Homo sapiens: one gene and its partners. The protein of the gene in region 3 purifies or fractionates together with the protein of the main gene of each other region. This does not show direct contact. Each region holds a gene or a part of one and is shown on either strand. Other genes may lie near its edges. The genes, in order: POF1B, JUP, GMCL1, SERPINA12, DSC2, A2ML1 and SULT2B1.

Region 1 (3,500 bases), on a different chromosome or scaffold from region 3:
TTTTTTTAACCAACCACATTAGTTAGGACTCTTTCTGTTTCATGTGACAAGAGACCCAATGTAAACTGGGACTTTTTAAATTCACTTAAATGGGGTTACTTGGTATCCAGATGGATTTGTGTGTTCAAAATATGCCTTTATAAATATGTCTTTCTTTATATCTTGGCTCTGCTCTTTCCTGTGTAGACATCTTAATCAGGTAAGGTCTACCCTCACGGTAGCAATATGACCACAAATTACATTCCAGCCATTTAGCAAAACCAAATATAAAGTAATTATGAATAGCTTCAGCAGAAGTCTATTTTGGATATTTCATATAAATGAAATAATACAACATATAGTCTTTTGTGTCTGGATTTTTCATTTTGCATAATGTTTGCAGGATGCAAGCATGATTTAGCATGAGTCAAGACTTCATTCCTTTTGGTTGCTAAATAATATCCAGTTGTATGGATATACATTTTATTTATTGATTAATCAGTTGGACATTTGGGTTGTTTTCAATTTTTGGCTATTGTGAATAATGCTGCTGTGAACGTCTGTGTACAAGTGTGTAAGGTACATGTATTCATTTCTTTTGAGTATATACCTAGGAGTGGAATTGATAGGTCACATGATAACTCTATGCTTAAGGAATTGCCATACTGTTTTCTAAAGCAAAAGCACCATCATACATTCCTAGTAGTGTATGACGGTTCCACTTTCTCCCCATCCTCGTTGCCATTTGTTATTGTTCATCTCTTGGATTATGGCCATCCTAGGTGGTGGAAAGTGGTATCCAATTGGAGTTTTGATTTGTATTCCCTAATAACTAATGTTTTTTAGCAATTTTTATGTGCTTATTGGCCATTTATACATCTTGTTTGAAGAAATGTCCATTCAATTTTTTTCCATTTTTTAAGTGAGTTGTCTTTTTATAGTTGAATTGCAAGAGATTTTCACATGTTCACAAGTCCCTTATCAGAGACAAGATTTGCAAATATTTTCATCAATTCCATGGGTTGTCTTTTCACTATCTTGAGAGTATAATATGCAGCATAAGTATTTAATATAGAAAAAAATCCAATTCATCTATATTTTTTCTTGCTTGTGCTTTTGGTATTATATACAAGAAACTGTTGACTAACCCAAGATCATAAATTTTACATTCATAAGTATTTTGTCTTATATTAATATAAACTGTCTTCTGGTTACTAATTGTATGAAATATCTTTTTCTGTCCTTTCATTTTTGACCTATTTGTGTATTTGATTCTAAACTGTGACTCTTGTAAACCACACATGGTTGTATCTTTTTATACATTCTGCCAATCTCTGCTTTTAGCTGGAATATTTAATGCACTTACATTTAATGTAATTCATAAGTTAGAATTTACATTAGCTATTTTGCTATTTGTTTCTATGTCTTATGTTTTTTGTTCTTCTGTTCCTCCATTCCTGCCTTCTTCTGTGTAAAATATTTTCTACAGTAACATTTTAATTCCATTTTAGTTACTTTTACTATATTTTCTGAGTTTTTCCCCTTAGGTTTCCCCCAGAAATTTAATTAATATTTACCTGTATAGTTACCTTTACTGGTGATCTTTATTTCTTCAAATGGATTTGGGATGCTGTATAGAGTCCTTAAATTTCAGCCTGAAGGACTCCTTTAGTATTTCTTGTAGGACTCCCTTTAGTATTTCTTGTAGAACAGGTTTTGCAGTGACAAATTCTTTGGGTTTTTGCTTGTATGGGAATATATTGCTTTTCCTTCATTTTTGAAGAATGGTTTTGCTGGATAAAATAATTCTCAGCTGACAGTGTTTTTTTGTTACTTGGAATATGTCATCCCATTGCCTTCTGGCCTCTATAATTTCTGATGAGAAATCAGTTGATAATTTTTAATTGAGGATCCCCCTGACATGTTTCTTTTTTACTGCTTTCAAGATTATTTTTTTCTATGGCCCTTGACTGTTTGATTATTATGTGTCAAGGTTTGGATCTCTTATTTTTCACTATTTGGCATTTGCTGAGCTTCTTTGATGTGCAGATTGATATTTTTAATCAAATCTGGGAAGTTTTCAGACATTTCTTCAGCTATCATTCCTGCCACTTTCCTCCCTCTCCTTGTGGAGTCCCCATAAACAGAACAGAATGTTCTGAGGCTCTGTTTATTTTTCTTCATTCTTTTTTCTTTCTGTTCCTCAGAATAGATAAACTCAACGGACCTTCTTTGCAATTTGTTGATTCTTTCTTCCATTTGCTTACATCGGCTGTTGAGAAATTTAAATCTAGTTATTATCTTTTTTACCTCAGAATTACTGTAGTTTCTCTTAAAAGTAATTTCTCTTTCTTTAATAATGTTCTTTATTCCATAAGCCACAACTCTCATCCTTTCCTTTAGTTCTTTAGTTCTTTGAGCATACTTAAAATAGCCAATTTAAAGGCTATGTAAATGCAACATCTGGCTTCTTAATGGATAGTTTCAAGTGATTTTTTCCATGATAGGCAATATTTTCTTGTTTCTTTGCATGTCTTATAATTTTTTATTGAAAACGTGACATTGAAAATAATATAATGTGGTAACTCTGGAAATTAGATACTCCCTCCTGCCAAGGTGTTCATTGTTGCTATTATTTGCTGTTGATGTTATTGTCTTTTGCTTAGTGGCTTTTCTGATTTAATTCTATAAAGTCTGTATTCTTTTCATATGTGGTCACTGAAGTCTCTGCTCATTTATCTTAGTGGTCAGTTAACATTTAAACAGAGGTTTCGTTACAAACATGAAACTAGTAAGTCTCCTAGTTTTCACTGAGAGGCTCTTTGTCTGTGTTTGGACACCTCTTCAATGTTCTGGTAGGCAATTTATAGCTCGTCCTTAGCCCCCAGTTCCTGCTTACACAGAGTTTTAAGGTTAGCCAGTACTGAGGGCTCAGGATTTTCTCAGGTCTTTCCTTCACATGCGTACAGCCTTGGGCATGTACAAAGCCCTACACATGCCTGTGGCTTTCTAGATTCCCAGGAACATATAACAAATTTTCAAAGCCCACTATGGACAATTTATTTCTCAGTTTTTCCTTTTATCATTTTTGGTCAATTTCTTGTCTGCCTGAACTATTATAGCCACCTCAGGTAGTTGTGATATTAAACAATTTCCACACATTATTTTCGACAAATGTTCCCAGGAAAAAGGATTTGCAAATTGGTTGAGCTACGAGTCAAGTTTTAAAAGGCATCCTTGCAAGTGGAGTTTTCCACAGAATCAACAGACAAATCAAACAATGACAATTATAACGACAATGTGGCTTTGAAGGAGCTCTAACCTTGTTTTGTCTTCTAGTTGCTGCCAGGCTCCTGGGTTTTACCCAGATTGTTTTAAGGGTCGGGCGCGGTGGCTCACGCCTGTAATCCCAGCACTTTGGGAGGCCGAGGTGGATGGATCACGAGGTCAGGAGATTGAGACCATCCTGGCTAACATGGTGAAACCCCGTCTCTACTAAAAATACAAAAAAAAAATTAGCC
Region 2 (3,500 bases), on a different chromosome or scaffold from region 3:
CATAGCAAGACCCTGTCTCTACACAAAACTTTAAAAATTAGCTGGGCATGGTGGTGCACACCTGTGGACCCAGCTACTTGGGAGGCTGGGCGGGAGGATTGCTTGAACCCAGGAATTCAAGGATGCAGTGAGCTGTGATCACGCCACTGCACTCTAGCCTAAGGGACAGAGCGAGTCCCTACCTCAAAAAAAGGAAAGAAGGCCGGGCGCAGTGGCTCACGCCTGTAATCCCAGCACTTTGGGAGGCTGAGGTGGGTGGATCACTTGAGGTCAGGAATTCAAGACCAGCCTGGCCAACATAGTGACACCCCCATCTCTACTAAAAATACAAAAATTAGCTGGGCATGGTGGCGCATGCCTGTAGTCCCAGCTACTTAGGAGGATGAGGCAGGAGAATTGCTTGAACCTAGGAGGCAGAGGTTGCAGTGAGCCAAGACTGCACTACTGCACTCCAGCCTGGGCGACAGAGCAGGACTCCATCTCAAAAAACAAACCAAAAAAAAAAAAGAAAGAAAAGAGAAGAGGAGAAGGGAGGAGGAAAGAAAGCTGAGTGCCAAAAGCGGTGGCTCACGCTTATAATCCCAGCATGTCGGGAGGCCAAGGTGAGTGGATCACCTGAGGTCAGGAGTTCAAGACCAGCCTGACCAATATGGTGAAACCCCGTCTCTACTAAAAATACAAAAATTAGGCCGGGCACAGTGGCTCACGCCTGTAATCCCAGCACTTTGGGAGGCCGAGGCGGGTGGATCATGAGGTCAGGAGATCGAGACCATCCTGGCAAACACAGTGAAACCCCGTCTCTACTAAAAACACAAAAAAATTAGCCAGGCGTGGTGGCGGGCGCCTGTAGTCCCAGCTACTCGGGAGGCTAAGGCAGGAGAATGGTGTGAACCCAGGGGGCGGAGCTTGCAGCGAGCGGAGATCGTGCCACTGCACTCCAGCCTGGGCGACAGAGTGAGTGAGACTCCGTCTCAAAAAAAAAAAAAAAAAAAAATTAGCTGGGCGTACTGGCAGGCGCTTGTAGTCCCAGCTACGCGGGAGGCTGAGACAGGAGAATCACCTGAACCCGGGAGATGGAGGTTGCAGTGAGCCAAGATTGTGCCACTACACTCCAGTCTGGGTGACAGAGTGAGAGACTCCATCTCAAAAAAAAAAAAAGAAAGAAAGAAAGAGAAAAAGAAAGCTGAGCTTCCTGCTCTGCTGGCCCCAAAGGCCAAGATGCCAGGAGGCTGAGCAAAGGAGAGTGGTCCATGAGCTTGCCCTTCAGGCCTGGCAGAGGAAGTCGCTTCACAATAAGATATTCCATGTCCCCAGACTCAACCATGTCCCAGGAGAGGCCGCTCAGTGTCACTTGCAGGAACACAAGCCCTGGTGACCTGCCCAGCCACACTGCTTGCTTTTCCTCTTCACAGGGGTCACAGGACCAGCTCACAGATGCCTTTCCCTCTCACTGCCAGGTCGCTCTTCTCCCAAAAGATACAAATGAGGAGTCTCCCCAAAGGGCAGCAATTCCTGTCTGGCCTCCCTGCCGCACAGGATGGCCCTCATCAGAGAAGAGTCAATGCTGAGTCTCCACCTCTCCCTCTTATTTCTCAACTCAAGATTTCATCTTTAGCAGGCAGAAAGCCCCTCCTCCTGTCTAGACTGCGTCCCTTCAGTAAGTGCATCGGGCCTGCAGCTCTCAAGTCCTCGGGGGAGATGGAAAAACTGCAACCTCATGCCCTCTTTGTAGTAGTCAGTGGGATGGGGTTCATTCTGTTTTCTTCTCTGTCTCAAGTCCCATTAGCCTTCTCCACGATCAATAATCCCGTTGCCTGGGGTCCCCGCCTGCCCTCAGGGAATCCAGAAGCGCGGTAGTGACAGGTTCAGTACTCCGGCTGCACCATCACATAAAGAGAACCCATTTCCCAGACCCCAAATCCAGGCCCATTCTGGTGTCAGATGTCCAGTTGGCAGAGACACCAGAACCAGGCAGGTCTGGAGAACAATCTGACACCAGCTCCTCCCTAGAGGGCCAAGGCTCTGGCTGACAGGCAGCACACATGACCCCCACCTCCATCACCAGAAAAGCCCTCCCAGCAGCTGCCTATCTCAGGTCTCTTGGGCTTCAGAGCAGAGGACAGCCAGTTCCCCATCAAGAGCAGCCTGGCAGCACTGCCTCGTCAACTCCAGCAGGACATTAGCCCAGGCCTAAATCGGACTCTCGTTTCTCGCCAATCCCCACAGGGCAGCACCCCTTTATCTTGGCATAGCCCCAGCCCCCAGCAAAGCAGGCAACTCCCACTTCCTACACATGAACAAGCCCAGAACAGCCATGGTTCTACCTAACCCAAGCTAGGAGGCAGCACAGCTTTGACCCCTGCCTCCTCTTTCCCTCTCAACCTCCCCCCAACACTCACCACAGCCCTGGCCTTGGGGAGAAGCCGCTTCCACCGGAAACTAAAAATCAAGCCACTGGGGAGATTTAAGTGGGCTGGTGGCCAGGACAGGTATCACCCCCACCTACAAAACCTGCCCTACATTCACCACTCACACATGCCTTCATGGGCCCTTCTGAATTCTCTTCTCCCCAGTCAGGCAGAGGCTCTCAAAAGGGGGTGCAGAAAAATCCTTTCCGCTCACACCTGTAATCCCAGCACTTTGGGAGGCTGAGGCGGGCGGATCTCCTGAAGGTCAGGAGTTCGAGACCATCCTGACCAACATGGTGAAACCCCATCTCTACTAAAAATACAAAAATTAGCCTAGTGTGGTGGTGCATGCCTGTAATCCCAGCTACTCGGGAGGCTGAGACAGGAGAATCGCTTGAACCCAGGAGGTAGACGTTACAGTGAGCCGAGATCGCGCCACTGCACTCCAGCCTGGGTGGCAGAGCGTGACTCCATCTCAAAAAAAAAAAAAAAATCCTTTCCAGAGCTGCATGGGGCAATACAGCAGGATGGGTTCTGGGCTTGGAATCAGAGGACCCAAACGTCAGTCTTGGTGCTGCTTGGGTCTCGCTGTACAACATTGGGGAAATTACTTAAGTTCCTTGAGTTTCAATTTCCTCCTCTGTAGAATGCGAATAATGATACGCGTTTTTTTTGTTTTTTTTTTTTTTTTGAGTCAGGGACTCACTCTGTTGCCCAGGCTGGAATACAGTGACACAGCTCACTGCAGCCTTGACTTCCCTGGGCTCAGGTAATCCTCCCACCTCAACATTCCCAGTAGCTGGGACCACAGGCATGCACCACCACGCCCGGCTAATTTTTCTATTTTTTTGTAGAGACAGGGTTTCTCCATGTTGCCCAGGCTGGTCTGGAACTCCTGGGCTCAATCAAGCAGTCCACCCTTCTGGGCCTCCTAACGTGCTGGGATTGCAGGTCTGAGCCATCCAGCCTGGCCAGCCATAAGGATTAAGTAAAAATAGTTAATGAAAGTGCTTGGTTTGGGCCAGGTGAGGTGGCTCACGCCTGTAATCCCAGCACTTTGGGAGGCCGGGGCGGGCGAATCACGAGGTCAGG
Region 3 (3,500 bases):
ACAGCAGTGTGGTGAGACAATGAAGGAAACAGTTAATGTGAAAACTGTATGTGGCTATTACACATCAGCAGGGACCTATGGATTAGATTCTGTAAAGAAAAAGTGAGTTGCCTTTCTTGTTTTTCTTCCTATCCCACTTTTAGGAATTTGGTTGCTTTAGTTTCTTAAGAGAATGTATAGCTATAAGAAAGAAAGAATTAAGGAAAAATAGGATAGGGGGATGGAATTTTATTAAATAAAAAGCCCCTTTTAACTTTTGGACTAATTAGTAAATTCCTCAAAAGTGTCGTCTTTGTAAGTGACCATAGGTGGGTTATATACATGCTTATAAAAACCATGGTCACCTTGGTCGGGTGTGGTGGCTAACACCTGTAATCCCAGTGGTTTGGGAGGCCAAGGCAGAAAGATCACTTGGGCCCAGGAGATTAAGACCAGCCTGAGCAATGTAGGGAGACCCCATCTCTACAAAAAATTTTAAAAATTAGCCAGGCATGGTGGCATGCACCTGTGGTCCCCACTATTCTGGAGGCTGAGGTCAGAGGATTCTTTGAGCCCAGGAGGTTCAAGACTGCAATGAGCCGTGATCATGCCACTGCACTTTATAGTATATTTTCTATTAAAATTGTTTAAGAAGTAGGCCTGATAGACTGACAGTCCTTCTAACTCTTGAGAGTTGCAGTACCTGTTTTGAGATTTTAAAGAAGGTTATACTAGTATGCAGACCCCTTAATAAACTATTTAACACAAACTCAAAATGAAGTTTTAAAACTGGAAATGCTCTCGTTAATATAAAGGAAATATTCTCTTAATAATATCCACTGACAAAAATAATACTAAATTTCCTATTGTTAAGCTAAAAGTTTTGAGCATGTTCTGGCAAGATTAATCTGATTTTATTTTAACTATAAGTCCTACTTAATAAATTGTAAATACATGGCATATAATGTAATAATTATATATTTTAATTTCAGGTGCCTTGAATGGCTTCTAAACAATTTGATGACTCACCAGAATGTTGAACTTTTTAAAGAACTCAGGTATTTGAATTTCAAGTAACTTCATAATTAGTCATCCTAAAATATTGTTTATCATTTGTTAAAGTACATAACATTTTTGTAGAACACAAAAATATATTATGAAAAAGCAAACAATTTAATGAAAGGGCTTGACTACATCCATAAACTGAAGAAATGCTGTGCAAACTTATTTCTTTGTTGTGAATAATATAATGGATATTATGTCTACTGTTTTAACCGAAAAATGCATTACTGTTATAAGACTATAGAAAAGTTTCAGGTTTTGCCAGGCTGTTAGAGAATTTAAAAGTTATATTTTAAAAATCATCTTTTTTATTGAGAAATAAGTTTGAAGAAACTGTTTTGGCCTTTTTTTTTTTTTTTTTTTACCTTCAAAAACTTTTCATGTTGATCCGTTTTCTCACTAGGATGAATTCTCTGATGTGGAGTAACAAATGTGTGTCTCCTATAAATGTATATTTTTCCATCTCTGATTATTTCACACCTTGAATCCAAATCTGTAGTCCCAGCTACTCTGGAGGCTGAGGCAGGAGGATTGCTTAAGCCATAGAGGTCAAGGTTGCAGTGAGCTGTGATTGCGACACTGCTCTCCAGCCTCAGTGAGAGTGAGACAAGTTACCATGGTTCTTCACCGTCACCTCCTGGTACAAGGTCTTCTGAACCAGGTCAAGGTATTCCCACTCCTGATGAGAGAAGTCTGTGGCCATGTCCCTGAATGTTACAAATTCACAGGCCATGGTTTTAGACAAGCAAAAGCCAATCAGTCCTCAGGGTTTCTCTACCAGAAAAGCGATTTGGGAAAACCTAGACCTATAATCCCAGCACTTTGGGAGGCCAAGGTGGGAGGATTGCTTGAATCTAGGAGTTCGAGATCATCCTGGGCAACATAGTGACATCCCCTCTCTTTGAGAAAATATCAATCTTCCTTTAAAAAAAACCTGTTAGCGCCACACAGGGTCCCATGCAGGCTTCAGGCTGGGGCTGCAGAGGCTCCTGCAGTCAACTGCGCCGCCTTCGTCCTCAAGCGGGACCTGGTCAGACGCAGCACAGCGCAGAGCCAGAGGTCCTGGAGATGGAGCCAGAGGTCCAAGATTTCTCCATCACCTGTGGACTATGTAGTCCAAGCTGGAATAATAGGACCGCAGTCACCCGTGAGAAATGGATTCCAGGGTTCTAAAAACCTACAAGAAATATGGCGGTGACAATGAGGACTGCCCACCCTGCCCACCACCCAAGCTGCAGAGCAGCCTTTCTTTTTTAAAGAGATGGGGGCCTTGGTATGTTGCCCAGGCTAGACTCAAACTCCTGAGCTCAAGCAGTCCTCCTGCCTCAGCCTCCAAGTAGCAGGGATTATAGGCACATACCACTGCACCCAGCTTAGTTTGGCTTTTTGGATTAAGTACGCATATTATCCATTTATTCCTGCAGCAAGTACTTCCTGACTGTCCTTTATATGTAAAGATACTCTATTAGGGGCTGTGAAGAATGCAGAGATGATTTTGTCATGGTCTCTTGCTGTCAAAGAGCTTATTTGTAGTAATGGGACTAAGATATTTGTGATGGGTCTGAGAAAATCTGGCTAGCAGTTAACTTTTGAAGGCTGGTTGGCATTACAGTCATTTTCTGGCTTGCATTTCCCTGACAGCAGTGCTTCTGAGACAAGGATACAAATGTGTCCGAGAGTATGTGACATTCTGATGGAAATGTACAAAACCAAAGTCAAACATTACATAGCTTCCCAGAATGTGAATTTTACTGATTTTTTTTTTTTTTTTGGTGGGGAGGAGGTGGGGAAGAGGTAAATATTTTTATGTTTAAATACATTATGGAATAGAGGGAATTCAAATTTCCTTGAACTCTCAAGATACAATTTATAGAAATGTTACTTTTTATGGTTAGACCACCTCCTAGATTATGGGGTTTTTTTCCTTTCTTTTGCCTTTACGAGATAATTTGGTAGAGAAGTGTGAGAGACTTTCATCACCTGGTGATGTCAAGGCATAAATAAATCACCGTAGAATGTTTGATTTGAAAATCGTTAGAAACACTTTAATACAGTCAACCCTGCTTATCCATGGGTTCTCCATTTGTGGATTCTACCAACTGCCGATTGAAAAGATTTGGGGGAAAAACTATAAAAAATAATAACAAAAAAACCCAATGTAGTATGACAACTATTGCATAACATTTACATTGTATTAGGTACTGTAAGAACACCTAGAGATGATTTAAAGTATATGAGAGGATGTGCATAGGTTACATGCAAATACTATGCCATTTTATATAAGGGACTTGAGCATAGAGGATTTTGGTATTTGTAGGAGGTTCTGAAACCAATCCCCCACAGATACAGGGGGATGACTCTAATTTCTCACTGAACTTTTTGAAAAAGGAGCAGGATCCTCTTAAAAACCCACGTGCTCTCTTGGCTTTTTATGGCTCAAAGGAAAGAAAGAACAAAGG
Region 4 (3,500 bases), on a different chromosome or scaffold from region 3:
CAACAAAACCCATGAAGTATCCAAAGTAAGTTATACAAATAATAGTTGAAGAATAAAAGAGAGTAAATATTTTTCTTTTTAAAACATAAACTGATATTAGATTAATGCTAAGCCTACAGAATTCCTCCCAGGCACTTGCTTACTGATAGATTTTGGGGGAAAAGGTAAGAGTTGGTGTTGGGTTTAAGTCTTGGGGACTTAGTGTCAGCGTGGACATACATAGTGCCTTGAAAGTGGCTGGGCTAGTGGCCTCTAGTAGCCAGAGCAGTGAAGGGGATGTAGCAGAGTGGGCAGTTTCCACTTGGACAGGTGTCAGATGTCCTCTTCTCTGTTCTCTTTCCCTCTTCCACCTTGTCCCTGTCATCATTCCCCATGCATCTCCATAAAGGTATTTACTAAGAACCTCTGCCACACCTAACGTCCTGTCAGGCACCAAGGACGGTACCAAGAGAGGTACAGATGATGCTAGGACTGAGCTTAGTAACCCATGGGTGGTAACTGAACTGATGCAACTCTTTTCATGCAGAACACTGTCTTGGAGGCATTCCAGAATGCATCTCTTATATCTAGAGTGAGCTGCAGACTTAAGAAAGGGAAATTCTGGCCGGGCGCGGTGGCTCACGCCTGTAATCCCAGCACTTTGGGAGGCCGAGGCGGGCGGATCACGAGGTCAGGAGATCGAGACCATCCCGGCTAAAACGGTGAAACCCTGTCTCTACTAAAAATACAAAAAATTAGCCGGGCGTAGTGGCGGGCGCCTGTAGTCCCAGCTACTTGGGAGGCTGAGGCAGGAGAATGGCATGAACCCGGGAGGCGGAGCTTGCAGTGAGCCGAGATCCCGCCACTGCACTCCAGCCTGGGCGACAGAGCGAGACTCCATCTCAAAAAAAAAAAAAAAAAAAAAAGAAAGGGAAATTCTGATTCCGAATGCTTCCAATTAAGTCATGGTACTGGGATGGAGGAGCCAAGTAGCAGAGCATCCCAAGAGCGTTGCCATCCCTTGAGATCTGCATAGTCTCACCTGCCCTTCCCACTGGGAACCAGGGAGGTGGAAGGGTTGGCAGAGTCTGGCCACTGAAACAAAAGGAGGGGTCCAGGTTACAACCTTTAGCTGAGACCTGGTCTTCTCATCTATGGTGTGTGGCCATAATATCGCCAACACCACAGTACTCTTGAGAGAATTAAATGTGCCTTAGCACAGCATTGCCCCACAGAAAACATATCCAAATGCAAATTCCTCTTTCCTTCCCATTGTCTAAAGAGGCAGAGCTCCAAGGTTCTCAGCAGAACTTTTGAACTTCTGGTTTATTGAATGACAGGTGTCCTGCAAATCTGACCCTCTTACCCTCAGGTTGAAGCCCTAGGGTGGCTGCTCTTCCACTGCAGAAGATGTTCCCAGTGGGAGGGGCGGGTGAGGCTGTGCAGATCTCGAGGGATGGCAGCGCTCTTGGAATGCCCTGTCACTTAGCTCCCCCCTTCCATAAATGTGACTTTATTGAAAGCATTCAGAACCAGAATTTTCCTTTCTCAAGCCTGCAGCTCACTCTAGATATCAGAGATGCATTCTGCAATGCCTCCAAGCCATGTTCCGTGTGAAAGGAGTCACATCAGTTCAGTTCAGTTACCACCCACGGGTTCCCCCATGTTGTCTCAACATGGGGACATCCCCAAAGGGACTGACGTGTTTCAGCCTGCACTCTACAGATTTTTAGAGTTCACAGAGATGTCTTGAGAGATCTCCCTAGGGAACTGGGGGGTGTAGAACATGAAGAGAAGGTAAGAAATGGGAGGGATGCCAGGTCTTCCACCCCACTTCATCCAGAAGTCTGGCTTTGTGAGACATGGACTCCAGAATATGACATTTCCCGTAGGACTCAAATTACAGTGGCTTGAGACTCTGCAGTTGATTTGCTGGAACTCACTGTCCTGAGTGCACTCCACCCCTATCTCCAAGCCATGTCTGACAATTTCTCCATGGGGCTACAGCTCAGGTGCTACACTGGGGGCTTCACATTCCCCTCACTGAGGCCCTCTGCAGCCCCTGGTGCTGTGACCACCATCAGGCCACCACCAACCACACAGATGTTCCCTGGGCACTGCCACCATCTCTCTGGCTTCAGGCTTCATCTCCTTTTGCACCTTTACACAAGAGTGAAATAGAACCTTTGAGATTTTCTGTAGGCTAGTGCCAGACTTCCTGGAGGTTTGGGAATAACAGAACCAAAGCTCCTCACAGGGACCCAGGATAACTTACAGCGCACAGAAGCGGCGTCTTGTGAAGTCCAAGTGTAAGCTGCTCTCAGTGGCGTCTCGTGAAGTCCAAGTGTAGAGTGTAGGCTGCTCTCAGTGGTGTCTTGTGGAGTCCAGGTGTAAAGTGCAGGCTGCTCTCAGTGGCGTCTTGTGAAGTCCAAGTGTAGGCTGCTCTCAGCATCTCTTCCAGGGCACCTCCTTCCATTTTTCTAGTGCCTGGTCTGCCTCCCCCATCCCTCTGGGACTGCTTTCCGCATCTCCTTGACTTGAGGCCAGGCCTCCCCACCAGGAGGGCCATAGAAAGGAAGGTTCCTCTCACCCCAGGGATGTCTTGCCTACCCAGTCACTTCTGGCCTTGGAATGACAGACAGGGTATTGTCCACCTTCCCGAGAAGAAACTCCAAATCCTCTTGCAGGACAGGGGGCTTGCTCACCGTCCCCAGGGAATTACATTTCATTAGAACATGATAGGAACAAACATTCCTACCTTCTGAGCTCATTATTTCTGGGAGATAAGTGGTCAAGTTGCTTTGATCTACAGGTGGGAAGCCTAGTCCAGAGAGCTCAGTGGCCCGCTATGGGAGAGCAGAGGTGGACGGGCTATCCCTATGCATTCTTTCTGCAGTCCTCTCCAGACTGGAGGGCCTAGAAGACACTGAGCAGAAAAATCACCTTTTCCCTAAAAGAAGTAACCAAGTCAACAGACACACACCAACTTACATGTGTGTAGAACATGTCAGAATTTAGGCTTCGGATGACTTCCACCTGGCCTCTGTGCAGGAGGCAGACACCTGCTTTGGATTTGCATAATTTGAGGCCAGGTGCTGCTCTGATTTCCCCAGAGGAAAAGCTCTGTTTCCCAGGGTCCACCTTTAGGAGCAGAAAACTGCTGGTGGCTTTGAAATAGCCATTGTCCTGTTCAGAAGTGTCGAGGGTCCACTCCCAGCCTGGGTGCCCCCCACACATTTCCGTACATATTGGTATATGCACTCACCTGTCAGCACAGCTGCACTTAGTGCCTTCCCACGTTGGCACAAACTAAAGCCGATCTCCTCATTTACGCACTGGACCTACGGCCCCCTGCTACTCAGGAACATCACCCTAGAAATCCTCTCCTCACTTTCCTACATCAGCATATGTTTTTCTCTCTTCTGAATCATTTCCATCAGATACAAAGATGCCCTTATCTTTCCTATCATGAAACCTCGCAGGGGGCCAGGGAAAACTTACAGCTCATAGAAGTGGCTTCT
Region 5 (3,041 bases), on a different chromosome or scaffold from region 3:
TCCCTTTGTGACTGTACCTTTGTATCCCTACAGAAAATCTGGGCATAGCTGAGAGGTTAGAATTGTGGAGTTTCTGCTAGCCACATCTTTTCTGTTTACTTATTTTGTTAGGATTCAAGGGAGAGGACAGAGCAGAACACTCACTGCTTTTCAGTTAACAAATATGAAGGCAAACTTGCTGATATATTCGCTTGTATAATTTTTAGAGTGTGTTTCACTGACCATCAGCATCAGAATCACCCTGGTGTTGCTGAAAATAGAGATCCCTCATGAATCAGTCACAGGAGTAACAGGCTAGTAGGGGAAAAGTATAGAAGCCTTCACTTTTCAATACATTTTCTAGGTCATTTTTTCTTACTCTAAAGTTTGACAATCGTTAGGGTTTTAGTAACTGGGTTTATTGATTATTTGGTGGTTTATGAAACTTAAGTATTTAAAATTTGCCTTTTCATATAAAACATATTAAGCAAAATGCTAGAAATGTACCAAAGAGTTGAAACACATTGATGAGTAAAATTTCACAATGTCTGCAAATTAAGCATTTCAGAATGTACATTGTTCCCTGTGGTTTCTACTTTCTACATGCATGTGAACGAGAGAAATAGTCTTAAGGTAGGAATGCAGAACAAAGCCACACAGAAAACATTTAATAAAAATTAACAAGTTTTGCCACATAAATGCTGCTAGTCAAGAAGATGTATGCAAAGTAAGTTGCATATATTTTTAAAAATCAGAATTGCCAAATCTCCAGAGATAAATAGAACTAGAAAGGTCAACAGCAGGTGGAACAAGTGACTGTCCAGAAGGCAGCAACTGTTTGGCATCACTGTGCTGTTGTGTGGGGACCTGTGTCAGGTGGGGTAACAGGTAATGCTCACTGACTGTGGCGGCCAGGAGCTTCAGAGGGGCCTGTGAATCAGGGATGGGAGATGAGGGTAGAGACGAGACTTTTCAGCTTAAGGAGTGTTCCCCTGGGAACAGGGCCAATTGGAAAACTCCCAGGCACCAAGGACATGAGTTAACCAATAGGGAATGAGAGGCTCAGAAAGCCAGAGGTGAAAGGAGCAGAGGGTGTCAATATACACAAGATGTGATGCAGAATTACCAATGAAATCAAGTAAAAGGGATTTATCCAAAAGAAGTAAGAGAATAGTGTAAAGATTCTACTCACATGCAAGGATGTTTGTCTCAGTGGCATTAAATATATGAATAACTGAAAATAAACTAAATGTTCCATGACAGGGAAGTAATTAAATGATGTATGATCCATTACTGTGATACAATGTACCATAATTGAGGACAATGGAAACAATGATCACACACAGACTTCGCAGTCAGAAAGACGTGGATCCAAATCTCAGCTTTGTTCTTGCTGTGTTACCTTGGGAAATCACAGAAACCTCAAATTTCTAGCATATCAAATAAGGACAAATTAGGAATAAATTATATAATTCACATAAAGATCCTAGCTTACTGCTTGGCTCATCAGTATATCAATAACCAGCAGCTATCACTATTGTGATATGATGATGGAATATCATGCAATCATTTTATTTTGAAAACTTTAATTAAATGGGAAAAGACATAAACTATAGTAGTATTTTAAAACTAGGATAGGTTTCCAAATTATTATAATCTCACATTTAAATAAATATGAGACTATCTGTAATACACTAAGATATTGAGTGATAAATCCTCGGTAAATGAAATATTTATTCATTGTGTGTTTCCATGTTTTCATTTTACCACAAGCATTTATAATTTATAACATTGAGGGAAAAGTTCATGTAAATGAAATACAGAGCAAGAAAAACTCACAGGCTTTAGAATTTGGGGAGCTTACAGGCCTGTGAAGAAAAGCCTTTTCATCTTAGCTTTAATAAATAAAGTTTTCACTGAACATATTATATTTACAGTAAATGATTAAATTGAAAGCAAAAAGAAAATACTGTATCATCTCACATTATCATAACTGAGTGCATTCATGTGCTTTTGGTCTTAAAATTTTACTTTAACGCACTTAGGATTTGTCGTCAGTAATTTGTTATGCACTATCTAGACTAAGAATAGGTATTAATTTACTAGAATTGTCAAATGAAATATTTCAAGCAAAGTTTGCATAATGAATGCAAGTTTAAACCAATTAAATGTGTTCACTTTTTAGCAAGCTAAGCTGCTCCTTATTTCTCCTGTAGTAGACACAATCACAGTTAATCTTTGCACAATGCATCGCATTCTCCATGCAACCTAACAGAGCGGTCTGGGATAGAGCCTGAACTTTGGGTCCCTTGGGGCCCAACAGGCAAGGTTCAGATCTGGGCTCTACCACAAACCATCTGTGTAACCTGAACCTCCCTAGTCTTCAGTTTCCTCATCTGCTTTAAAAAATTGCTAGAACATAGTTCTATGTAAATGTTCGGTGTTAAAATTTATTTGGTATCTACTGTATGTAAGATATGGCCTCTGCTCTCAAAAATATGTAGTCCCAGAAGTGATATAATATGTTCACGGAGACGTACTATTAAAAAGTGCCACAAAAAATCTGTAATGGAATGTTCTTACAAATATTACGTGTGCGTGTGTGTGTGTGTGTGTGTGTGTGTGTGTGACCTTTTTTAGCAAGAGATGTCCCAATCCCTTCACATTTACATCATTACAGAATTCCTTTGGAATCAATGGCAAATGTCCTCCTGTGGGGAGCCAGGTGTACTGTGAGTTTCTGTTATCATTCAGGGAAGAAAGCTGTCAAAAGCTTGCTTGTTTTAAAATTGTAAACAAGTTAGTGCTGGACATTGGGAATTTTACCTTATTATAATAAACAAAATCAATTTTGTTACTTGTTGAGCCTTGTTCCGGCGGCAGTTTAAGTTATTTATTAAACAAATAAATTGAGTCCTTTTGAGGTTTCTTCTTAAGTTTTCTTAGGGCAGGTTTGGTGGAGACTTTAGGGCTAACTTAAGTCCTTTGCTGAGGTGTGACTCCACCAAATGTCCAGAGTTTTCAGAGGAAGATCTTTTCTTTCCACTGCCTCAAACTTCAAT
Region 6 (3,500 bases), on a different chromosome or scaffold from region 3:
CTTTGGTTTCTTGTGCTCCTTGGGTATTACTCAAGAAATCTTTGCCCAGACCAATGTTCTGGAGAGTTTCCCCAAAGTTTTCTTATATATAATAGTTTCATAGATTGAGGTATTAGATTTAAATCTTTCATCCATTTTGACTTGATTTTTCTATATGGAGAGAGATGAGGGTCTAGTTTCATTCTTCTGCATATGGATATCCAATTTTCCCAGAACCATTTATTGAAGAGCCTGTGCTTTCTCCAGTGTATACACTTGTCACCTTTGTCAAAAATGAGTTCACCCTAGACATGTTTCTGGGTTCTCTATTCTGTTCCATTGGTCTATGTATTTGTTTTTATGACAGTACCATGCTGTTTTGGTTACTATAGCTTTGCAGTATAATTTGAAGTCATGTAATGTGATTCTTCCAGCTTTGTTCTTTTTGTTCAGAATAGATTTGGTTATTTTAGGTCTTTTATGGTTCCATAAAAATTTTATGATTTTTTTTACAAAAGTCCTAAGATTTAGGATGTAGAATTTCTGTGAAGAATGTCATTAGTATTCTGATAGGGATTGCAATGAACCTGTAGATTGCCTTAGGTAGTACGGAATTTTAACAATATCAATTCTTCCAATCCAGAAACATGAAATCTCTTTTCATGTTTTTGTGTGTCCTCTTCAATTTCTTTCATCAGTATTTTATAGTTTTTATTGTTGAGATCTTTCACTTCTTTGGTAAAGTTTATTCCTAGGTATTTTATATTATTTATAGCTATTGTAAATGGAATTATCTTTCTTAATTTCTTTTTCAGATTGTTCCCTGTTGGCATATAGAAATGTTACTGAATTTTTTTTGTTTTTGAGACAGAGTCTCCCTCTGTTGCCCAGGCTGTGGAGTGCAGTGGCGGGATCACTGCTTACTGCAACCTCTGCCTCCTGGGTTCAAGTGATTCTTGTGCTTCAGCATCCCAAGTAGCTGGGAGTACAGGCATGCGCCACCATGCCCAGCTAATTTTTGTTTTTGTTTTTTTGTTTTTTGAGATGGAGTCTCATTCTGCCGCGCAGGCTGGAATGCAATAAATGGTTGCTCATTGCAGCCTCTGCCTCCTGGGTTCAAGTGATTCTCCTGCCTCAGCCTCCCGAGTAGCTGGGTTTACAGGTGAGCGCCACCACCCCTGGCTAATTTTTGTATTTTTGGTAGAGATGGAGTTTCGCCATGTTGGCCAGGCTGGTCTCCAACTCCTGACCTCAAGTTATCCTCCCCACTCAGCCTCCCAAAGTGCTGGGGTTACACGCGTAAGCCACCACGTCTGTCTTCTTGCACTTTTAGGATTCTTTTTTGTTTTTTATTCCTTGATGTTTGGGAGTTTGATTATTAAATGTCTTGAGGTAGACTCATTTGGGCTAAATCTGCTTGGTGTTCTATAATCTTGTAATTAATATTGATATCTTTCTCAGCTGGGCTCAGTGGCTCATGCTTGTAATCCCAGCACTTTGGGAGGCTGAGGTGGGCAAATCACCTGAGATGAGTATTTCGAGACCAGCCTGGCCAACATGGCAAAACCCTGTCTCTACTAAAAATACCAAATTAGCCAAGCAAGGTGGCCTGTGCCTGTAATCCCAGCTACTGGGGAGGCTGAGGCAGGAGAATCACTTGAACCAGGGAGGCGGAGGTCACATGAGCCAAGATCACATTACTGCACTCCAGCCTGGGCAACAGAGCGAGACTGTCTCAAATAATAATAATATTGATATCTTTCTCTAGGTTTGGAAAGTTCTCTGTTATTTTCACTTTGAATAAACTTTCCATCTCATTTTCTCTCTCAACCTCCTCTTTAAAGTCAATACCTCTTTTTTTTTCTCTTTGTTAAATTTATCTGATAAGATTCTGAATTCTTTCTCTGTGTTATCTAAAATTTTGTTGAGTTTCCTCAAAACAGCTATTTTGAATTCTCGATCTGAAAGATCACTATCTTTGTTTCTGGGAGATTGGTTGCTGGTGCCTTATTTAGTTCATCTGGTGAGGTAATTTTTTCCAACATGGTCTTGATGTGGATGTTCATTGGTGTCTGGGCATTGAAGAGTTAGGTATTTATTGTAGTCTTGGCATTCTGGACTTGTTTGTACCTGTCCTCCTTGGGCAGACTTTCCAGGTATTTGAAGGGACTTGGGTGTCGTAATCTAAGTGTTTGGACTCTGCAGTTCATCTGCATTAGGGAGGACCCCATGCTCAGTATCTCTGTGGCTCTTGAAGGCTCATAGAGGTACCTCCTTGATGGTCTTGGATAAGATCTGGAAGAATTCCAGATTACCAGGAGGAGACTCCTGTTCTCTTCCCTTACTTTCTCCAAAACAAACAGAGTTTCTCTCTTTGTGCTGAGCTGCCTGGAGAGAGGGGTGACACAAGCACCCCTGTGGCCACCAGCATTGGGACTGCACTGGGTCAGATCTGAAGCCAGCACCGTACTGTGTCTCACCCAAGGCCTGTGGTAACCAGTACCTGGCTACTGCCCATGTTTGCTCAAGGCCCTAGGGCTCTACAGTCAGCAGGTGACAAAGCCAGCCAGGCTTGTGTCCTCCCCTTCAGGGTGGTGAGTTCCCCATGACCCTGGAAGGTCCAGAGATGTAATCTGCGAGCCAGGGCCTGGAGTCAGAAACCTTAGGAATCTACCTGGTGTTCTGTTCTACTGCAGCTGAGTTGGCACCCAAGCCATAAGACAAAGTCCTTCCCACTCTTCCTTCCCCTTTTCACAGAGGAGTCTCTCTCTGTGGCCACCACTACTCCAGGCCCACAGGAGTACTGCCTGGATACTTCCAGTATTCTCTCGAGGCCCAAAGTCTCCTTTCACCAGCTTGTGGTGAATGGTGCCTGGCCTGGGACTCTCTTTTCAGGGCAGTGAGCTCTCCTCTGACAAACAGCAGGTCCAGAAATGGCATCCAAGAGCCACAGCCCATAACTGGCGACCCCAAGGGCCTGCTTGGTGCTGTACCCCACTGTGGCTGAGCTGGTACCTAAGCTGCAAGACAAAGTCCCCTTGACTCTTCCCTCTCCTTTTCTCAAGTAGAAGGAGTCTCTCCCCATAGTCACCACAGCTGGGAATGTGCTGAATCACTGGAAGCCAGCATGTCTCTGAGTCTCACCCAAGGCCCACGACAAGTACTGCCCAGCTATCACTGCTGAGTATTTAGAGCCCCAGGGGCTAATCGGAACTCAGCTTCCAACCGCTGGGATGGGCAGTTCACCCCTGGCTAACGCTGGTCTAAATGCTCCCTCCATGGGCACTGGCTGAGTTCTGCCCTGTGTGCTTTCCCCTGTGATTGGGCAGCATTGCATTCTAAAGCCAAGTCCCACAGTCACTGTGCTCTCCCGCCCTCAAGCTCATCGATTCTGTCTCTGTACCACAGTCACTGCTGGGGGATGGCGGGGAGGGGGTGAATCAGCAATTCAAGTGTGTCTTTTCTACCCTCTTCAGTGCCTCTTTCAGTGATATAAAGTTAAAACCAGGCACTGTGATCAC
Region 7 (3,500 bases), on a different chromosome or scaffold from region 3:
ACCTCGGCCTCCCAGGTTCAAGCGATTCTCCTGCCTCAGCCTCCCAAGTAGCTGGGATTACAGGCACCCGCCACCATGCCTGGCTAATTTTTATATTTTTAGTTGAGACAGGATTTCACCATGTTGGCCAGGCTGTTCTCGAACTCCTGACCTCAGGTGATCCACCCGCCTTGGTCTCCCAAAGTGCAGGGCTTACAGGCGTGAGCCACCGTGCCCGGCCTATCTACTCTATTACTTTGAATTCCCTGGCCACGCTTGTTCCCTGCCACAGTGCCTTTGCTTATCTGGCTCCTTCCATAGGGATCCCAGAGACATCTTCTCTCTCTCTCTCTCTCTCTTTGCTTATCTGGCTCCTTGCATAGGGATCCCAGAGACATCCTCTCTCTCTCTCTCTCTCTCTCTCTCTCTCTCTCTCTCTTTTGAGACAGAGCCTTGCTCTGTGGCTCACACTGGAGTGCAGTGGCACAATCTCGGCTCACTGCAATCTCTGCCTTCTGGATTCAAGTGATTCTCTTGCCTCAGCCTCCAGAGTAGCTGGGATTACAGGCATGCGCCACCACACCCAGCTAATTTTTGTTTTTTTTTGGAGATGGAGTCTTGCTCTGTCACCCAGGCTGGAGTGCAGTGATGCGAACTTGGCTCATTGCAACCTCCGCCTCCCAGGTTCAAGCGATTCTTCTGCCTCAGCCTCCTGAGTAGCTGGGATTACAGGCACACTCTACCATGCCCGGCTAATTTTTTGTATTTTAGTAGAAACGGGGTTTCACCATGTTGGCCAGGCTGGTCTTGAACTCCTGACCTCAGGTGATGTGCCCACCTCGGCCTCCCAAAGTGCTGGGATTACAGGTGTGAGCCACCGCGCCCGGCCTAATTTTTGTATCTTTAGTAGAGAAAGGGTTTCGCCACTTTCGGGACTTTGCGTGCACCAGCGCAGTGTCCTTTGCCTGGGCTGACCTCTGCCCTCTCTCCTTCCTTTGCCAAACTTCTCAGGCGTTAAGATTCAACACGGGCAATTTAGGATTTTTGGCCAGGGGAATGAGAGAATGCAGGCAGACACCCACGCCAGGTCCCAGGTCCCTGATCACGCTGGTCTAGCTTCAAATCTGCCCCGTGGCACCAAAATATTGGCCTGTTCGTGGATAGGAAATGAATGTAGGAAATCTGTGAAAAGGACGTCAAGAATGAATGAATGAATGGAGGCTCCATTAAGCAACCTCTGAGCCGGAGCTTCCAGGATGAGTCAGGGTTAGCAGACGGGGAGGAGGGGCAGGGAGTGCTGGGAAAGGGAATGGTTGGGGCACAGGGACACAGGTGGCTTCAGGAGAGTAAGGGGCAGCTGGGTCAGGAGAGGGCCAGCTGCCGTGGAAACTCCCCGTGGTGGGCCATCCTGCAGCAGACCTGAGTGGCTCTCAAATGGTTCGTTTTTTAAGCACCTCCAGGGAGAGAAACTATTGTTTTCAGAATACACGCATATGTGATTTAAAAAAAAAAAAAAAGTTGCCAGCTCAGTGGCTCACACCTGTAATCCCAGCAGTTTGGGAGGCCGAGGCAGGTGGATCCCTTGAGGTCAGGAGTTCAAGACCAGCCTGGCCAACATGGTGACACCCCATCTGTACTAAAAATAAAAAAATTAGCCAGAGTTGTGCCACACACCTGTAATCTCAGCTACTCAGGAGGTTAAGGCAGGAGAATCGCTTGAACCCAGGAGGCGGAAGTTGCAGTGACCTGAGATCCTGCCACTGTACTCCAGCCTGGGCAACAGAACAAGACTCTGTCTCAAAAAAAAAAAAGTTGTCCTAGGCCAGGCATGGTGGCTCCTGTCCATTGCAGTACTTTGGGAGGCCAAGGCAGGAGTATCATTTGAGGCCAGGAGTTCAAGACCAGACTGGACAACACAGCAAGACCCCGTCTCTAAAAAAATAAAATAAAAACCAAACAAGGAATTGACCAGAATTTAATTCAGGATAGCAGCTCAAGGGACGGGTAGATGCCACAGGAAGGGGCCCAGAGATATCAGCAAGATGCATCGCTCAGAATGTTCTAGTTTATGGGGTTCATTATGAATTATGAGAAATTTAATATGTGAGATCGGGCTCTGTGGCTCATGCCTGTAATCCCAGCACTTTGGGAGGCTGAAGTGGGCGGATCACTTGAGGTCAGGAGTTCAAGACCAGCCTGGCCAACATGGTAAAACCCCGTCTCTACTAAAAACACAAAAATTTGCCAGGCGTGGTGGCACTTGCCTGTAGTCCCAGCTACTGGAGAGGCTGAGGCAGGAGAGTTGCTTGAACCCAGGAGGCGGAGGTTGCAGTGAGCTGAGATCGCATACTGCACACCAGCTTGGGTGACAAGATTGAAACTCCATCTCAAAAAAAGAAAAAAGAAATTTAATATGTGTTCCATGTGGTCTTGTATGTAAAAAGGACTTAAAAGGATAATAAGGGCTAAATTAAAATCGTAAGAGGCCGGGCACGGTGGCTCACGCCTGTAATCCCAGAACTTTGGGAGGCCGAGGTGGGCGGATCACCTGAGGTCGATAGTTGGAGACCAGGCTGACCAACATGGAGAAACCCCGTCTCTACTAAAAATAGAAAAAAGTCAGCCGGGCATGGTGGTGCATGCCTGTAATCCCAGCTACTCGGGAGGTTGAGGCAGGAGAATCGCTTGAACCCAGGAGGCGGAGGTTGCGGTGAGTCGAGATCGTGTCATTACACTCCAGCCTGGGCAACAAGAGTGAAACTCTGTCTCAAAAAATAATTAAAATTAAAAAAATTAAAAAAAATAAAATCGTAAGAGGAAAACATTTGGCACAGGCGGTAGGCAGGATGGGCTGCTGACCCAGTAGGCTGACAAGCCCAGGATGTTATAATCCCTGTAACATCCTTGCAGTTGTTCTCAACCTGTTGAGTGCTGTCTGTATTACCTCATCTAATCCTTACAGCCGTCGGAGATTAACCCATTTTAACTACTATCATCCCCTGTAAGAGGTGAGGCCCAGAGAGGTTGAGTGACTTGCCCAGGGTCACACAGCTGCCAAGCAGGGCGTAGCCAGGATTTGAACCAGGGAAGCCTGACTGTATCACGCCCTGGATGGGGAACTTGGGGATGAGCAAGACCCGGAAGGAGCGAGATCCGGGAGGGAGACTCAGCCCAGACAGGAGGCGTTAGCAGGCGCTCTGCGGTTCCAGGCGTTTCCTTGCATTCCCTGCGTGCTGGGCTACGGAGAGTGTCAAGGCCAGAGAAGCCACGCCGGCCTTTGGACCTGGGGCGCCTCGGGCAGCCAAGGAGAGCTGCGGTGGCCGCTCCTCCCCGCGCTCTGATCTCGGGAGTCCCTGGCGCCGGCACCTTCTGATCTCTGCCTCTTATTGACGGGGAGGGCGAGGAGGGGCCAGCTCTGGTTTTACAACCCCGGCCCCACCTTCCTTAGGGAGGGCTGAGCCACATGAATGATTTTATGGCCAAAGCCCTGCCAGTCATGAGGCTGCTTTTTCTTTTTTCTT

The links.
Region 1: the proteins of GMCL1 (region 3) and POF1B purify together in Homo sapiens (affinity purification with mass spectrometry; 3 studies listed by BioGRID and IntAct, with this or other methods). This does not show direct contact.
Region 2: the proteins of GMCL1 (region 3) and JUP purify together in Homo sapiens (affinity purification with mass spectrometry; 3 studies listed by BioGRID and IntAct, with this or other methods). This does not show direct contact.
Region 4: the proteins of GMCL1 (region 3) and SERPINA12 purify together in Homo sapiens (affinity purification with mass spectrometry; 3 studies listed by BioGRID and IntAct, with this or other methods). This does not show direct contact.
Region 5: the proteins of GMCL1 (region 3) and DSC2 purify together in Homo sapiens (affinity purification with mass spectrometry; 3 studies listed by BioGRID and IntAct, with this or other methods). This does not show direct contact.
Region 6: the proteins of GMCL1 (region 3) and A2ML1 purify together in Homo sapiens (affinity purification with mass spectrometry; 3 studies listed by BioGRID and IntAct, with this or other methods). This does not show direct contact.
Region 7: the proteins of GMCL1 (region 3) and SULT2B1 purify together in Homo sapiens (affinity purification with mass spectrometry; 3 studies listed by BioGRID and IntAct, with this or other methods). This does not show direct contact.

Annotation. Positions count from the first base shown.
Region 1 is NC_000023.11:85,299,666-85,303,165, reverse strand, and holds part of POF1B (protein POF1B), read left to right. Parts: intron 1-3,500. UniProt on the Homo sapiens protein: Plays a key role in the organization of epithelial monolayers by regulating the actin cytoskeleton. May be involved in ovary development.
Region 2 is NC_000017.11:41,780,212-41,783,711, forward strand, and holds part of JUP (junction plakoglobin), read right to left. Parts: intron 1-3,500. UniProt on the Homo sapiens protein: Common junctional plaque protein. The membrane-associated plaques are architectural elements in an important strategic position to influence the arrangement and function of both the cytoskeleton and the cells within the tissue.
Region 3 is NC_000002.12:69,843,160-69,846,659, forward strand, and holds part of GMCL1 (germ cell-less protein-like 1), read left to right. Parts: coding exon 1-102; intron 103-971; coding exon 972-1,037; intron 1,038-1,425; exon of another isoform or gene 1,426-1,708; intron 1,709-3,500. UniProt on the Homo sapiens protein: Possible function in spermatogenesis. Enhances the degradation of MDM2 and increases the amount of p53 probably by modulating the nucleocytoplasmic transport.
Region 4 is NC_000014.9:94,492,470-94,495,969, reverse strand, and holds part of SERPINA12 (serpin A12 precursor), read left to right. Parts: intron 1-3,500. UniProt on the Homo sapiens protein: Adipokine that modulates insulin action by specifically inhibiting its target protease KLK7 in white adipose tissues.
Region 5 is NC_000018.10:31,058,340-31,061,380, reverse strand, and holds the end of DSC2 (desmocollin-2 isoform Dsc2a preproprotein), read left to right. Parts: 3' UTR 1-2,541; downstream 2,542-3,041. UniProt on the Homo sapiens protein: A component of desmosome cell-cell junctions which are required for positive regulation of cellular adhesion.
Region 6 is NC_000012.12:8,825,621-8,829,120, forward strand, and holds part of A2ML1 (alpha-2-macroglobulin-like protein 1 isoform 1 precursor), read left to right. Parts: intron 1-3,500. UniProt on the Homo sapiens protein: Is able to inhibit all four classes of proteinases by a unique 'trapping' mechanism. This protein has a peptide stretch, called the 'bait region' which contains specific cleavage sites for different proteinases.
Region 7 is NC_000019.10:48,555,172-48,558,671, forward strand, and holds part of SULT2B1 (sulfotransferase 2B1), read left to right. Parts: intron 1-3,500. UniProt on the Homo sapiens protein: Sulfotransferase that utilizes 3'-phospho-5'-adenylyl sulfate (PAPS) as sulfonate donor to catalyze the sulfate conjugation. Responsible for the sulfation of cholesterol.